Homo sapiens: one gene and its partner. The protein of the gene in region 1 binds, or shares a complex with, the protein of each later gene. Each region holds a gene or a part of one and is shown on either strand. Other genes may lie near its edges. The genes, in order: CAND2 and CUL1. A codon is read from its position in the direction of its gene.

What was found.
Region 2: the proteins of CAND2 (region 1) and CUL1 are in contact, whole or in part, in a cryo-EM structure (PDB 8VVY), measured with the Homo sapiens proteins. Residues at the interface, in NP_001155971.1 of Homo sapiens: Asp21, Phe22, Phe24, Met25, Asn61, Gly62, Glu63, Gln65, Asn66, Leu67, Glu100, Gln101, Asp104, Asp156, Asp160, Leu189, Ala190, Lys193, Arg194, Glu276, Gln280, Asp343 (codon at 5,742), Asp344 (codon at 5,739), Trp349 (codon at 5,724), Lys350 (codon at 5,721), Arg353 (codon at 5,712), Glu389 (codon at 5,604), Ser492 (codon at 4,497), Ser493 (codon at 4,494), Thr494 (codon at 4,491); in NP_001357589.1 of Homo sapiens: Val31, Thr33, Arg34, Gln35, Met37, Lys39, Tyr42, Met111, Asp112, Trp123, Arg127, Phe128, Val132, Asn181, Leu184, Glu188, Gly193, Glu194, Thr195, Asn197, Thr198, Arg199, Ser202, Gln206, Val209, Glu210, Gly212, Leu213, Asn214, Lys221.

What each region holds. Positions count from the first base shown.
Region 1 is NC_000003.12:12,813,635-12,820,902, reverse strand, and holds part of CAND2 (cullin-associated NEDD8-dissociated protein 2), read right to left. Parts: intron 5,763-7,268; coding exon 5,470-5,762; intron 5,037-5,469; coding exon 4,895-5,036; intron 4,530-4,894; coding exon 3,027-4,529; intron 818-3,026; coding exon 722-817; intron 1-721.
Region 2 is NC_000007.14:148,792,672-148,799,939, reverse strand, and holds part of CUL1 (cullin-1), read right to left. Parts: intron 7,215-7,268; coding exon 7,122-7,214; intron 2,129-7,121; coding exon 2,081-2,128; intron 2,004-2,080; coding exon 1,921-2,003; intron 1,369-1,920; coding exon 1,263-1,368; intron 666-1,262; coding exon 552-665; intron 1-551. UniProt on the Homo sapiens protein: Core component of multiple cullin-RING-based SCF (SKP1-CUL1-F-box protein) E3 ubiquitin-protein ligase complexes, which mediate the ubiquitination of proteins involved in cell cycle progression, signal transduction and transcription.

The DNA of each region.
Region 1 (7,268 bases):
ACACCCAGGGAATAGCAGGGCCAGGATTTGAACCTGAGGCAGGTGAGCTCCAAAACCTCTCTCTACTGGGCTGCCCTGCCTAGATGTGGGCTGAGACTCCAGTGTGGCCCAGTGAGGGGCTGCAGGCTCCAAGCTCTGAAGGGGCGAGGGCTCTGCCTTCCTAGGAAAAACCCAGTGGTCCTGCCGAGCCCCAGAGGGAGGTCTCAGTTCCTCTCCTCCCAGTGAAGGCTGCTTGGGCTCCTCAGGCCAGAAGGCCCCTCAGACAGAGGGCGATCTAGTGGACAGGCGGGGCCGGGGGGAGCACTCTTCCCTGCCCCACTTTGGGGCCCGCAAAAGCTAAGGCATGTGAGAGGCTGGTGGTTTTCCATTCCCAAGAGTCTATATGTTGATGAAGCATCTTCTCCCTCAGTTGCCCATGGGCTTCCAGGACAACTCTAGAAAATGCAGATAATAAGAGTTTCTCACGCCCATTTGACAGATGAGGAAAGCGAGGCTTAGAGGTGTGATGGGCATGCCACACCCACCCATGATTGAGTGGCAGTAGGAAGGCAGGGATGTGAACCCAGGCCTTTTAACTGGAGGGCCAGGCCCTGCTGCCCATCATGGGCACACCTCCCGGGTCTCCCATTGCCCTTGGCTATTGGGTAGTAAACATCAGCCCAAGCTCAAGGACTGGGTGGGGGCACTGAACAAGGTGGAGGGGCAAGAGGTAGGTGCTCACCGATGAAGCTCTTCAGGAGGGGGTCAATGGGATGGGGCTGGTCCGAGATAAGGAACTTGACCGCTGTGATGACGGTGCTCCGGGTGTGTGGCCGACCTGCAGGACAAGAAGAGGTGAGTTAGTGAGGGGCAGGGGCCAATCCTGGAGGCTCACAGATCAGAAGGTGCTTAGGCTCCTCCCCCTGCTTCCCTGGAAAACAGAACTGTACCCCCTCCCCATCTCTGGGAAAGTGGATTCTACCATTTCCCTTGGCAGCCTTGAATCTCCCCTCAATTCTTCCTGCTGCAGCTGAAACAGTAGGACTGCCAGTGCTCAGGTAACACCACAGGCTGCAAACAGGGAACCAATAACCAAGACAGGAACTGCTCCAACAAAGACCTTCCCTCAGGCCTTGGGATTTTTCAGACATGTTATCTCAATGAGTCCTAACAATGATCCTATTAATAATAAAGTAGTATTAAAAGAACCAATAAAATCACCAATAAAAATCATCTCTTTGACATATGAGGAAAGAGAGACTCAGAGGGTTTAAGTTCATGTCTAGGGCCACACAGCAGATCCAGAATTCCTGGCTGGGCCCCTCTTCCTGGGGCTGCGTTCTGGCTGGTGGTCAGGGAGGCCTAACAGAACTCGGATCACCTCCAGGCTCGGTCACAGAGAGCTTGCTTACTTGTGCTTTGCCGCTTGCTTTCTGAGTAGAGAAGCCCAGTAAAGAGGGGAAGTACATTCCCTTAATGAAGGAAACGAATGGGTGGACGCTCCACCTGCGTCTGAATCTCTCCTCAGTGGCTCGCCCCCTTTGCTCCCTGCCCAACCCCAGCACAATGCAGTGAATGGGCTAAGGTGTTTCCACCCCACAGGCTTTATGTTCAGCCTCGAGGAAAAGTTTACCATTTGGTGCTAAGGCATGAATGAATGGAAGAGTTACTGAATTCAGACTTTCAGCTTTTACCTCTTTCCCTTGCCAGCCTGACTGGCTCCCAGGAAGATTTAGGGTGGCTGATGAAGACAGGCACAAGAGAGTAAGATTAAGTGAACTGAAAACAAGAACAAGGCCAAGGACGACTGAAGGCAGGGAGGTGAGAAGGAGACTAGCAGGAAGATGTACAGAGAGCATCAATAAGGAAGTCCCAGGAACCTACTAGAAGCAGACCACTCATCTGGCTCTAAGCTTCCCAGCAGTTGGTGCTAAAAAGGAAATGTGACCGGGTGGCTGGTTCAACAGTGCACGTGAGATAGAAACAAATAGGTGTTTAGGCAAAGCAGGGCTCCTCTGCATCTTAACACTCTCGTCTCTCAAGGTTGTGTGATGTAATAGACAGTGTCCTCAACAATGTTCTTCCATCCAGTCCTGAGGCCAGACAACTGCTTCTTACGAACCCAGCAACCCAAGAAGGCCTTAACTGAAATCACTAACCTACCTAGTAACAACAGCAGCTCTTGATTTACTCAGTATTAATTACTGTAGGTACCACATAGGTTACCAAACACTGTACCTGCATTCTGTCAAGCAGAGCATCCACTGGTTCTGTAAGGGGCCAGCTGGCCAGCTCGAAGCCCACTGGCCTTTCATTCTGGGAACTCTCATTTTCCTAGGAGCCTGATGACCCTACCTGTCTGCTTTCCACCTCCTGAAGCTAAGACACCTGGTGTGCCAAAACACGACAAGCCAAAACGCCTGCCCCTCCTGGTTCTTGCCCAGCCCTCTCCAAGCCTCGGGGGCATGTCAGCCTGTCCCCGTCTATACTGACGTCTGCTCTTGGCTCAGGCTAGCCGAAAGAGCTGACCCTCTGCAGGCTGCAGTCTACGGCTACTGGGAAAACTGTTTTTGTTGACCTCTGTGTGGAGCACTAAGCTACTGTCCACATCAAGGATTATGAAGTTGGCATCATGAGGTTTTTTGTTTTGTTTTTTTTTTTGGTAGAGGCAGGGTCTCACCATGTTGCCCAGGCTGGTCTCAAACTCCTAGGCTCAAGTGATCCACCCACCTCAGCCTCCCCAAAGTGCTGGGATTACAGACATGTGCCACCATGCCTAGCCAACATCATGAGATTTTTAAATGTATTTGTTGTAGGGACCAATCAAGGACTCTGTCCCTTCTATCCCACAGTCCCATAGGAGGAAGGCTTTAAGTCTCAGGTATCACTGTGTGTTCCTCTGTAGCTTCCTTGCCTCTGTCGTATAGATACCGTGATTCTTGTATCCAGTGACTTGAAATAGCTCACTCTGCCCCAGCTGCCTGGATGCTCAGTGGCAAACTGCCCACCTCCGAGGTGGGCTGCCTTGCCCACACCTGTGTGCCTACCTGCAGCAAGCTGCTTCCGCAAGCGGGGCAGAAGGAACGAAGGGTTCACAAGGACCAGCTTCCCAATGCACTCGGCCACCACCCCCCGGGTGCCCTCCTCAGCACCCTCGCAGCGCTGGAACAGCAAGGCCCAGATGTCCTCGGCGTAGGGCTTCAGGCTGTCAGGCTGGGCGGCCCCCAGGGCCTCCCTGAGTGAGTGCAGCAGCAGGTACTGTCGTCGGGGCTCAGCCTCGATCTGCTCCAGCAGGAAGGGCAGGAAGTCGGGCAGGCTGCCAGCACCCACACGGCCCAGTGCATACGAGGCTGCAGCCCTCACATCCTCACTGGGTGACCCCAAAGCTTCCAGGAGCACCGCCTTCAGCTCCCGCTGGTGGCCTGGCCCAGCCACCTGACCCACCTCAGCCAGCGACAAGAATGCCAGGACCTTGACCCCCGTGCTGGAGTGGGGCGACCTGGCATCGCAGACCAGGCGACTGGCTGTGCTTGCCGCCTCTTGGGGACAGGCAGCTGAGAGGGCTGCCACACACCGGGCCAATGAGTGGAACACCTGCTTGTGCAGGCCAGGCCCACCATCCACAGCCTGCTCATAAACAGGCGCAGTGAGCAGGCTGATGAGTTTGGCATAGTCCACACACGGGGGACGGGTCCCTACCAGGGCCTGCAGGAAGCCTTCAGCAGCTGCCAGAACCCCGGCTGGCAACAGGGGCGAACGCAGCAGCCGCAGCAGCTCTGAGAGCACAGGGCCACTGACCTCCACCAAAGAGGCTGGCTGGGCCTGGGTCACTGTGGCAAGGAAGTCCACAGCCAGCTGGGCCACATGCATGTCGCTCTCGTTGACCAGGGCAGGCAGCTCAGCCAGCACGGCCTGCACGGCAGACGGTGGGAGGCTGAGGCCCTGGCTCTGGGCCAGGGCGTCCAGGGCTGCCAGTGTGGCCAGTCGCAAAGCCCGCTGGTTCTTCCGCAGGAATGAGGCCAGAATGTGCAGTGCCTCGGCCAGGATGGGCTGTAGGTCAAGCTGTAGTGGGGATACGGCCACCAGCGTAAGCGCCTTGATGGCGGGCAGCCGGGTGATCTCATTCCGCAGGCGGTCCAGGAGGAGCAGTAACGTGGGCTCCAGGTCATCCCCAAGCCGGTCACCCAGGTGGCCTACAAGGTGGCCCATGCAGGAAATGGCCCGCTCCTTCACCTCCTGGTCCAGGTCAGTGGCACGAAGTCGCGCCAGGGTGACAGCAGACATCTCTCCAACATATGGCTCAGGATCCAGCATCCGAGGCCTGTGCAGCGGCCACAGGGCCCGCACCAGCTCCTGCAGCACCACCAGGGCCTCGGCTGCAATCTTGTAGAAAGAGTCAGCCACACAGGCCATCACAGGTGGCAGGAGGATAGGCAAGTGTGGGTGGAAGGCCTCAGCTGGTTCGGTGCCCAGCAGCCCCTGCAAGAAGGCCAGGGCATCCATCCGGATGGTGGAGGAGCTGGAGCGGTCGGCCAGCGAGAAGATGATGCCTGCAGGGTGAATGCAAAGGTTATGAGGCCACCGCCTCTGATGCAACACGGCCCTCCCTGGAAGCAAGGCTGGGGTACCTACAAGTGCCTGAGCTGGACTGAAGCACCTAAACTCTTCTGCAGAAGTTTCCAAGAAGTCAGCCCTGACCAGTGGCCAGGGCTGAGGGAAACATGTCCAGGGAACTCACTGGAGCCAGCCTTGTTCTCACTGCTGGTAGTGGGAGGCCACTGGAGACTCTTGACCAGGGACTGAGCCTGGGATTGGGTCTCAGACTGTCTCAGGAACTGGGGGCTCAACTCAGGGGTGGGGTCTGGGTTCTGGAAGTGGCCCAGAACAGCAGATACCTGGTTGCAGTCCAGCCTACCTGATACCAGCACAGGCATATGCTCGGCCAGGCTGCCTGGGAGGACACCCGCCAGCTCGGTGAGGAGGCTGAAGCATCCCTGGCGGGCTCTGACGCTCCGATCTTTAAGCTGCCGCTGCAGGGCCTTGACCACAAGGGGCACCTGTGGGCAGGAGGGGGAAGTCAAGGTCAGGGAACACCCAAGAAACCTACCCACCTGCCCACTACCAGGAGGCTTTGCCAGACACATCCCCAGGGAGGATGTCGGCATCAAGATATCTCCCAAGCACTCGTCCCTCACTCTGTGCCAGGCTTTTGGTGACCGCACACAGACCCTTGGAGAGTAGGCAAATTTTCTGCGTCCATTTTACAGGTACAGAGAGACCAAGCAACTTGCTCAAGCTCACTCAGGCAGGCTGGCTGTCACTACTACACTCCAGAAGCCTGGCTGGCTCCCGCCCCCCACCCCAGGGACCCCTTCCCTTCCCTTCCATGGCTGGATGTTCTCCCAGCTGAGTTTCCAAGTCCAGGGACACTAACAGTGAGTGGCTGGGTAGGCAAATCGGGGGTAGGGGTGGAGGTGAAGGCACGCCCACCTGTCCACGTAGCATATGGAGGTTGCTGCCGGTCTGGGTGGGTTCCTCCATGGCCTCCAGCCATCCCTTCGGGGGCTGTGTTTGCCGCAGCAGCACGATGTAAGCAGTGAAGACGTCAGCCTTGACGTTCTCCTCGCGTTCTTTGAAGCGGCGGATGAGCACAGGTGCCAGGGTGCAGTGGAAATCGGGCAGCAGGTCAGGCCGCGAGCTGATCAAGGCTGCGATGCACTTGGCAGCTGCCCGGCGCACCTTCCAGCTCATGTCATCGTCATCGCTGTACTCGTCTTCACTCTCTGGGGCAGGAACAAGACACACGTGGAACCCTCATCTCCCAGGACAGGTCTGTGGCTCGGGGGAGAAGGGACAGGGAGGAGAGAGAGCTGGGCACTGTGCTTCACTTTTTGATGATCAGCATTTATAGATACCCTATGGGGAACATTCCCTACCTTTTAATGGGCATCTACTGAGTGCTACGGATGGGGCTAAGCATGTCAAACCCATAATCTTATTTTAGCTTCATGACGACCTTTTGAGACAGGGATTATTTCCCCATTATAGAGATGAGAAAACTGGGGTTTAGATAGAGGAAGTGGCTTGCCCCAAGTTAAGGAAATACTTGGAGTTAAACTAGGGTCCTCCCCTCTGCCTCCAGACCCTTAATTGTCTGGACTGTACCAGGGAAAAAACAGACTTCCAAGTCTTCATGTAGACTTGGAGAATCAATTTGGGGCACAAAACTCATCTTTTGGCATCAGGTTTGGCTATGTGATGTTTCGTTTACTGGGACTCCAGAAGGGAGAAGGGACAGAGCCTCCCTTTGGCCTCTTCTCTCCCCCGATCTCTGCCTCTCAAGGGTCCTGATTCCAAAGGCTTCCAGGCAGGATTAATAAAGAGGAAATGCTGGGTTTGTGTGGCTTTCTACCTGACAATCTCCCTGAAAGTCAAGGGCTCGTGCAGTCTTTACCATCACCTCAAAAGTGAAGGTACTGCCAAGCTCCATTTTACAGACGATAAGACTAAGACTCAGAGCGGGTGAGACTCTCAGGGCACACAGCGAGGAACAGCAGAGCTGAGATTCAGGTCCACGAGGCCCAGCCCTATCACCTGTGGAGGCACACAGGAGGCTCAGAGGGGGACAGTCTTGCCTGGGAGCACCCCAAGGCACAGGCTCAGAGCCCAGCATGGCCTTGCCCATACCACTCTGTGGACCACTTGGACCCACAGGGTGGTGTCTGGACAGCCACAGTGGGCCACGGCCACCGGGCAGCTCAGCAGCCATCCCCTCTAATGGATCACTGTCACCCCCACAGTAGGCCACCCACGAACACACATCCTTAGCTCTCTATTACTGACAAGTGTCCCACCTCCCTGGCTTGGCATTCAAGGCCCCCGCATGCCTGTCCAATCTCATTTACCATCCCATCTTGTTCCAAGTACCCCATCAGGCTCTAAATCCATCGTCTCCATCGATGCCCTGCCTTCAGGCCTAGGGGCATCTCTGCCCTGGAAATCTGTCTGAATGACAGACAGGACCACAGGCATAGGAGGAAAGAAGCTATCAAGTCCACCCCCATTGAGACATCTTGCTCCCCTGCCAGTGCCTGCCATTCCACCATCAGAGCTTTCCTCTGCTGGGTTAAAGACATTATCTCCTGAAAGCCATTCATAAAAGGGTACACGGTGGCAGTGCAGAGGTGGGGGAGCCTGACAGACCTGGCTCTAAGGCCCAGCTATGCCAATTCCTAGTTGTGTTATCTCAGGCCACTCTCTTCTCAGTATGTGTCCTTGTCTGAAACACG
Region 2 (7,268 bases), on another chromosome or scaffold:
GAAATAAGCAAAATGTCAATTATCAGTAGGCTACATAAAGGAAGGTGTGTTCCCATAACACAACACCCATAAAAGCAACAAAAACGACCCAGTGCTTCTCGATACCGCAATGCGACGAACCTCCCGAAGATACTGCTGAGGAAATTCTTACCAGGCACGGGAGTGTGTGCTCTAGAATCTGTTTATGTATCACGCAAAAGCAGGCAAAACTGTTTTATGGTGTCAGAAGACACGACAGTGATTTTCTATGGGACACAGGTGCTGGCTGGGGTGGGTGGGCTTCCGGGATGCCGGGCATGTTTCAATTCTTACCTGGGTGCTGATCACACAGTGTATTGACTGTGAAAGTCATCAAGCTGGCACTTCATCATCTGTGCACTTTGTATGTGTGTTTCAACAGTTAAACTGAAGCCGACTTTCTTTTATAGAAATCTACATACAAAGAAGCCAGCTCCCTCCTCCTTCATGCTACAGCAATCAATCCACTTTTTGCTACATCTTTTATCTTCTAAATTAAGAAAGGAATGTGACTGCTATGTAAAGTCCTGTACCTTGATCACAGGGACTCGAGGTTTGAACCTGGAGGACAGCTGAGTGAGGACCTCGCCAAGTAACTGCTGGTGTTTCAGAACCTTCCTCATCTTCATGATTCTCACGATGGCCGCCTATGCAACAAGATAAGGAAAAAGAAGTGCATTTAGAGCTGTAACAACGTTGTATTGATAGTTAAGGACAAGCTGCACAGAGGCTGCCGACGCCTATGCACAGGATCACAATTTCCTAACAGGCAACAAACATCCTGCAGGTGAGACGGGAGAGGGAACCAATTCTACCTGCCTATGTTTCAACTCTAACGTGGCAAACATTACAATGTTTGGGTCTTTTGAGCAATTTTACCTCAATAATTTAACTCAACCATAAAGCATTAAAAAAAAGGAGACAAAATTAAATCTTCAAGGCCACGGAAGCTGCCCATCCTCCCCACTGAAGAACTCTCCTTCCCCCTCATTTCAGCCAAACCTGCCACAATGTTTGCTTTCCAACATTTAGAGCAAGAGGACTGCCCTGTTTTGCCTGGTGACATAAAGGACTAATTCAGATAACAAGGCCCTGGCTCTCGGCCTTGCCACCTTCTGCCATCACAGACCCATTCATCTGGCAATCACTCCTTTGTCACCCCCGCCTACCCCCCACGGCCCGTCCTTGCGAGCCATCCCTGCGTGAGGGACAGCACACCTGGCACAGGCATACAGATAAGTCACCTGAATCAGTAGTTTGCGGTCTTCCTCGATGTTTTTGTGTGTGGTTTCTTGTTCCTGCTTCTGTTCGGTTTTCATTGGCACATTGATGTTAACCCTTAATTTCTTACTATCAAGAAAAATGAGGAAACCGATCACTATTATATTAAAAGGTAGGCAGTGAAGGCTGCTTTCTATTTTTCAACCTTTAAGAAGTGCCCTGCTTCCCTAGACAGAGGGGAGAATGTTGATTTCTGTGAGCTCTCCGTGAAAATGTCCTCTACCCAGCACTGGGTAGAGTCCGATCATGGCCTAGTTTCCTACTCGGCCATTAACAGGGACATCCACATTACAGAAAATCCAGGTCCCTAATCTGCTCTCCCAAATTTTGTCAAGTGAGATAAAATCAAGCCACTTGGACACAAAGGTCCAAACTTTCTTGGTGAGCCATTTAAGGAGACTTATTTGCCAAAATAATAAAAATCCCAGAAGCTCAGAATTGGAGAAACATCAGGCTCGCTGAATGGAATCAAAGGCCTACCTCACACTCCCAGCCTAGTGCCTGTCGCTTCACACTGAGTCCCCGGTCTCCCTTGGTTTGTAACAATACTGAGATCCGTGCTAGGGCTCCCGGGGGACGTGTCTATGGTCAAGGGCCATCTACTTATTAGATTTTTCTTACTTTTTATAACCAAGATATAATTTTATTAAGGTATCTGGCTTCAATTCCACCTCATCAACATTTGCATTTTCATCTTCCAAGACCTGTAAGAAAACAATTGTTACTCTACAATCTCAGGAAAAGGCTTCTTCTAGTGTAAGATAAAAGGGCGCAAACCTACCAATAGCTTCGACTTTAATAAAATCTGTAAAACTTGCGCCAAAATGTCCTGCAATTAAAGAGAAAAAGAGGAAGTTAAAGGGAAAATGCATTTTTCTTTGCAATAACCACCACAGGCAACCTCACAGTCCATTTTCCATTAAAAAAAAAAAAAAAAATCACCCAAAAGAAGAGTATGCTGGAAGGAAAAAAAAGTTGGTACTTCTTAGAAGTTCACTAAATTTACTGCTTCCTTCCACCCTGACTTCTAGAAGTGAAATCAACCCCTTTCTGGCCTTGATCACACAATAATAGAAATGAACAATTCTGTTATACTTAAATCAGGTTGAGTAACCCTTATCTGAAATGCCTGGGACTAGAAGTGTTTGGATTTCGGAATACTGCACTGGATTTACAGATTCAGCAGCCCTGATTGGAAAATCCGAAATTTCAACTGCGCCATGAGCATTTTTTTTTTTTTTTTTTGAGCATCATGTTGGTGCTCAAAAATGTTTGGATTGTGGAGCATTCTGGAATCTGGATTTTTGGATTAGGGATGTTGAACCTGTATTGGAAACCATGCACAATGAAATCTTCAGGAACTCTTCACTTCTTAAGTGCCTGACAGCTCATCTTGGACACTGATCATCACAAAAGAAATATTAAAGAGCTGCCCAGCAAGACTGAAAATAATGTCCTGCTCATGAGAACAGTGGGGCTCAGCGGCAGGCGACCTTGTCAACTTGCCTTTGATGCACTCAAGCACGTTGTGTGGCCTCTCATCTGTGAATGGTGGGTGTGGTAAACGCTTCCCAGCCCTCCTTCAGCCTCACAGCTTTATGATCCCATGAAATCCAAGGGACCAGCCTGAGGGCACTCACAGAGTCACACGGACTCTTACAACCCACGGGCAGTGGAGTCCTGTCGTCATAATGGGTACCCATTCTGGTCTGAGGATACGTGGTGAAAGCTGTCAAAGCGAGAGGCCTCTCTCTAGTCTAGTAACTGACCCAGAACTGCCAGCAGCCATTCGAATACTGCCCACTGCATCTAGAGCAGGGTGCGGGGGTGCCCACTTCCTGAGCCAGGTCTGATTGGACAGCATCTACTGTGGGCAGAAAGGAGAGAGCAGCGGCAGCCTCCTGAGGGAGTTCTAACACTGAGAACCACTCAGGAGACTGGCCTAAAATCCTGATCAGAAGCAGCCAAGCAAAGACCTGACAGTCCACACCTGTCAGCCCTGTCCTCAGGACCCGTCTGCACAGCCCTCCCCACAGTCTAGGGGGCAACCAGGCCTCCAACCTACAAAGGCACAAACTCATTTTGTTATTAGAATCTGAAGATATATTTAGGAGTAATTCGAAGAATGATTACAAAATAGTCATTCAAAATGACTTTCCTAACTCAGTCCATAAGGCCAGGATTAGCCAGACACGAAAACCAAACGAACATCTTGAGAAAACAATGGAGCAATATCCCTTATGAATATAAATGCAAAACTCGAGAAAATACCGGCAAGCTAAACCCAACAACATAGAAAAAGGATTATATACCATGACCAAGTGGGACTCACCCTAAGAACACCAGGGTGGTTCAACATCAGTGCAATACACCATATTAACAGACAAAAAAGCAGTTATTTTGACAGAGTAGAAAAAGCATTTTGACAAAATACAACACTCTTGCATGATACAAAATTCAATAAACTAAGAATAAAAGGGAACCTCTTTAGTCTGATAAAGGACATCTAGTAAAAGCTCACAGCTAACACCATCACTCTTTAACATCACAGTTAAACAGTAAAAGACTGGAAGCTTTCCCAATAAGGGCAGTAACAAGACAAGGATGCTTGTTCTTGCCACAAATTCTAGCCAGAAGAATCAGGCAAAAACAAAGACAAACAAAAAAGAAATAAAAGGCAGCCAAATAAGAAAAGGAAGAAGCAAAACTGCCTGTATTTATAGATGATATGACAGTATATCAAAAAACTCTAAGGAATCCCCCCAAAAACTATTTGAGCTAATAAATTAGAGCTAATAAACATTTAGCAATGTTATAGGAAACAGAATCAAAATACAATAATTAGTTGTACCTTTTTTTTTTTTTTTTTTTGAGACAGAGTCTTGCTCTGTCGCCCAGGCTGGAGTGCAGTGGCGCAATCAGGGCTCACTGCAAGCTGCGCCTCCTGGGTTCACACCATTCTCTCGCCTCAGCCTCCCGAGTAGCTGGGACTACAGGCACCTGCCACCACGCCCGGCTAATTTTGTTTTTGTATTTTTAGTAGAGACTGGGTTTCACCATGTTAGCCAGGATGGTCTCGATCTCCTGACCTCGTGATCCGCCCGCCTCGGGCTCCCAAAGTGCTGGGATTACAGGCGTGAGCCACCACACCCTGCGGTACTTAGTTGTACTTCTATACATTAGCAACGAGCAATCAGAAAGTGGAACAGGCTGGCATGGTGGCTCATGCCTGTGTAATCCCAGCACTTTGGGAGGCCAAGGTGAAAGTGTCACTTGAGCCCAGGAGTTCAAGACCAATCTGGGCAACACAGTGAAACACCATCTCTACAAAAAATACAAAAATTAGCTGAGCATGGTGGCAAGCGCCTGTAGTGCCAGCTACTCAGGAGGCTGAGGAGAGAGGATCATTTGATACCGCAGTGAGCTATGACTGCACCATTGCACTCCAGCCTGAGCAAGAGACCCTGTCTCAAAAAAACAGAAAAAAGTGAAATTAAGAAAACAACTCTGCCAGGCACGGTGGCTCACGCCTATAATCCCAGCACTTTGGGAGGCCGAGGCAGGCAGATCACTTGAGGTCAGGAGTTCAAGACCAGCCTGGTCAACATGGTGAAACCCTGTCTGTACTAAAAATACAAAAAATTAGCCAGGCATGGTGGCGCACGCCTGTAATCCCAGCTACTTGGGAGGCTGAGGTGGGAGAATTGCTGGAACCCAGGAGGCGGAGGTTGCAGTGAGCCAAGATTGCACCACTGCACTCCAGCCTAGGAGACAGAGCAAGACTCCGTCTCAATTAAAAAACTAAAAACCAATTCCATTTATAATAGCATCAAAAAGAATAAACTAGGAATAAATTGAAAGTAGTAGAAGATGCATACACTGAAAACCATGAGACACAGTTGAAAGAAAAGACAACCTAAATAGATGAAAAGACATCCCATGTTCATGGAGTGGGAGACTTAAAATACTGCTGAGATGGCAATACTCCCCAAAGCAATCTATAGATTCAGTGCAATCCTTATCAAAATCTCAACTGCACTTTTTGTAGAAATGGACAAGCTGATCTTGAAATTCATAAGGTAACATAAGGGATCCAGAATAGCCAATATAATCTTGGGGGAAAATAAAACGAAGTTAGGGGTCTCGATTTCAAGATTTACTGCAAAACAACAGTAATCCAGACAGTGTGATACTGGCATAGTAAAGATATACAGATCACTGGAAAATAATTGAGAATCCAGAAATAAACCCATATATACCTATGGCCAACTGACTTTTGACAAGTTTGCCAGCACCAAACAATAGGGAGAGAATAGTCCTTGGCCTCAGACTAGGCAATGATTCCTTAAAAATGACACCAAAACCACAAACAATATAAAGAAAAAATAGATAAAATAGGCTTCATCAAAATTAAAAATGTGTGTATATAAGAAAGTAAGAAGACAACCCACAGAATGGGAAAAAACATTTGTAAATTACATATTTGATAAGGATCTAGTATACAGAATATTAAAAGAATTCTTACGACTCAACAACAAAAAGACAAATAACCCAACTGAAAAATGGGCAAAGAATTTGATCAAACATTTCTCCAAAGAAGATATACAAATGGCAATAAACACAAAAAAGATTCTACACATCATTAGTTGTTAGAGAAATGCAAGTCAAAAACTGCAAGATACTACTTCACATCCACTGGGATGGCTATAATTTTTTTTAAAAATGAAAATAACAAATGTTGGTGAGGATATGGAGAAACTGAAAGTTTCATACACTGTTGGTGAGAATATGAAATGGCACAGCCACTATGGAACAGTCTGGCAGTGCCTCAAAAAATTCAGCTATTACATGACTCAGCAATTCTATACCTAGGTATATACCCAGGAAAATTGAAAACATGTATTCACAGCAGCATTGTTCATAATTGGAAACAACTTAAATGTACATCAACTGATGAACAAATAAAATGTGGTCCATCTATACATTGGATTATTCGACCACAAAAAGAAATGAAGTACCAACACATGCTAGAACATGGGCAAACCTTGCAAACAGTATACACTGAGGGAAAGAAGGCAGGCACAGAAAGTCATGTGTTATATGATTCCATTTATATGAAATGTCTGGAGTAGGCAAATTGATAGCAAATTAATGGTTGTCAGGGGCTGGGAGCTAGCGGGCAGTTACTGCTAATGGGTGCAGGTTTCTTTTTGGGGTGATAAAACACTCTGGAATTGGATAATGGTGGTAGTTCTATAAGCTTGTGAATATACTAAAAACCACTTTGTACACTTTAAAATGACTTTTATGTTATGTCAAATTTTATTATCTAAAATATATCTCAATAAAAAATATGGCTAGCAGGAAAAATAATACTAAAGTGGAAATTTAAGCTTAGTAAGAAAAGCCTAACTGGTTAAATGAATGAGAGAAAAGCATGGATGAGGAGTATGTGTGTGTGTGTTACACGTAGTTTTATTTTTAAGAGACAGGGTCTCTGTCACCCACGCTGGAGTACAGTGGCACGATCATAGCTCACTGCAGCCTCGACCTCCCAGGCTCAAGTGATCCTCCCGCCCCAGCCTCCCAAGAAGCTGGGACTACAGGCATGTGCCACCATGCCTGGCTCAACAATGAGTTTTAACATGAAGCTTTTTGTAGTGCGTATTAAAATCCTGGAATAAGGCCATATTCATATTCATGAGGCAAACATCTATTTCAAATTAAAGATGCCCATATCCTCTTCCTTATCTTTCCTAACAATATCCACGAGAACAAGGAAACGGCAAGCTGATAGAACAACGAGCCTGAGATGAGAATACCATTTTAATTTGAGTGCTGTCGGTCAGCTGCTGCACAGTGTAGGCATCTTCCGTGTTGTACTGAAGCAGGATAGCCATCTGGAATGTCGACGCCTTTGCGGCCCCCCATATAAAAGAAAAAGAAGGAAAATTTACATGCATGGAAAC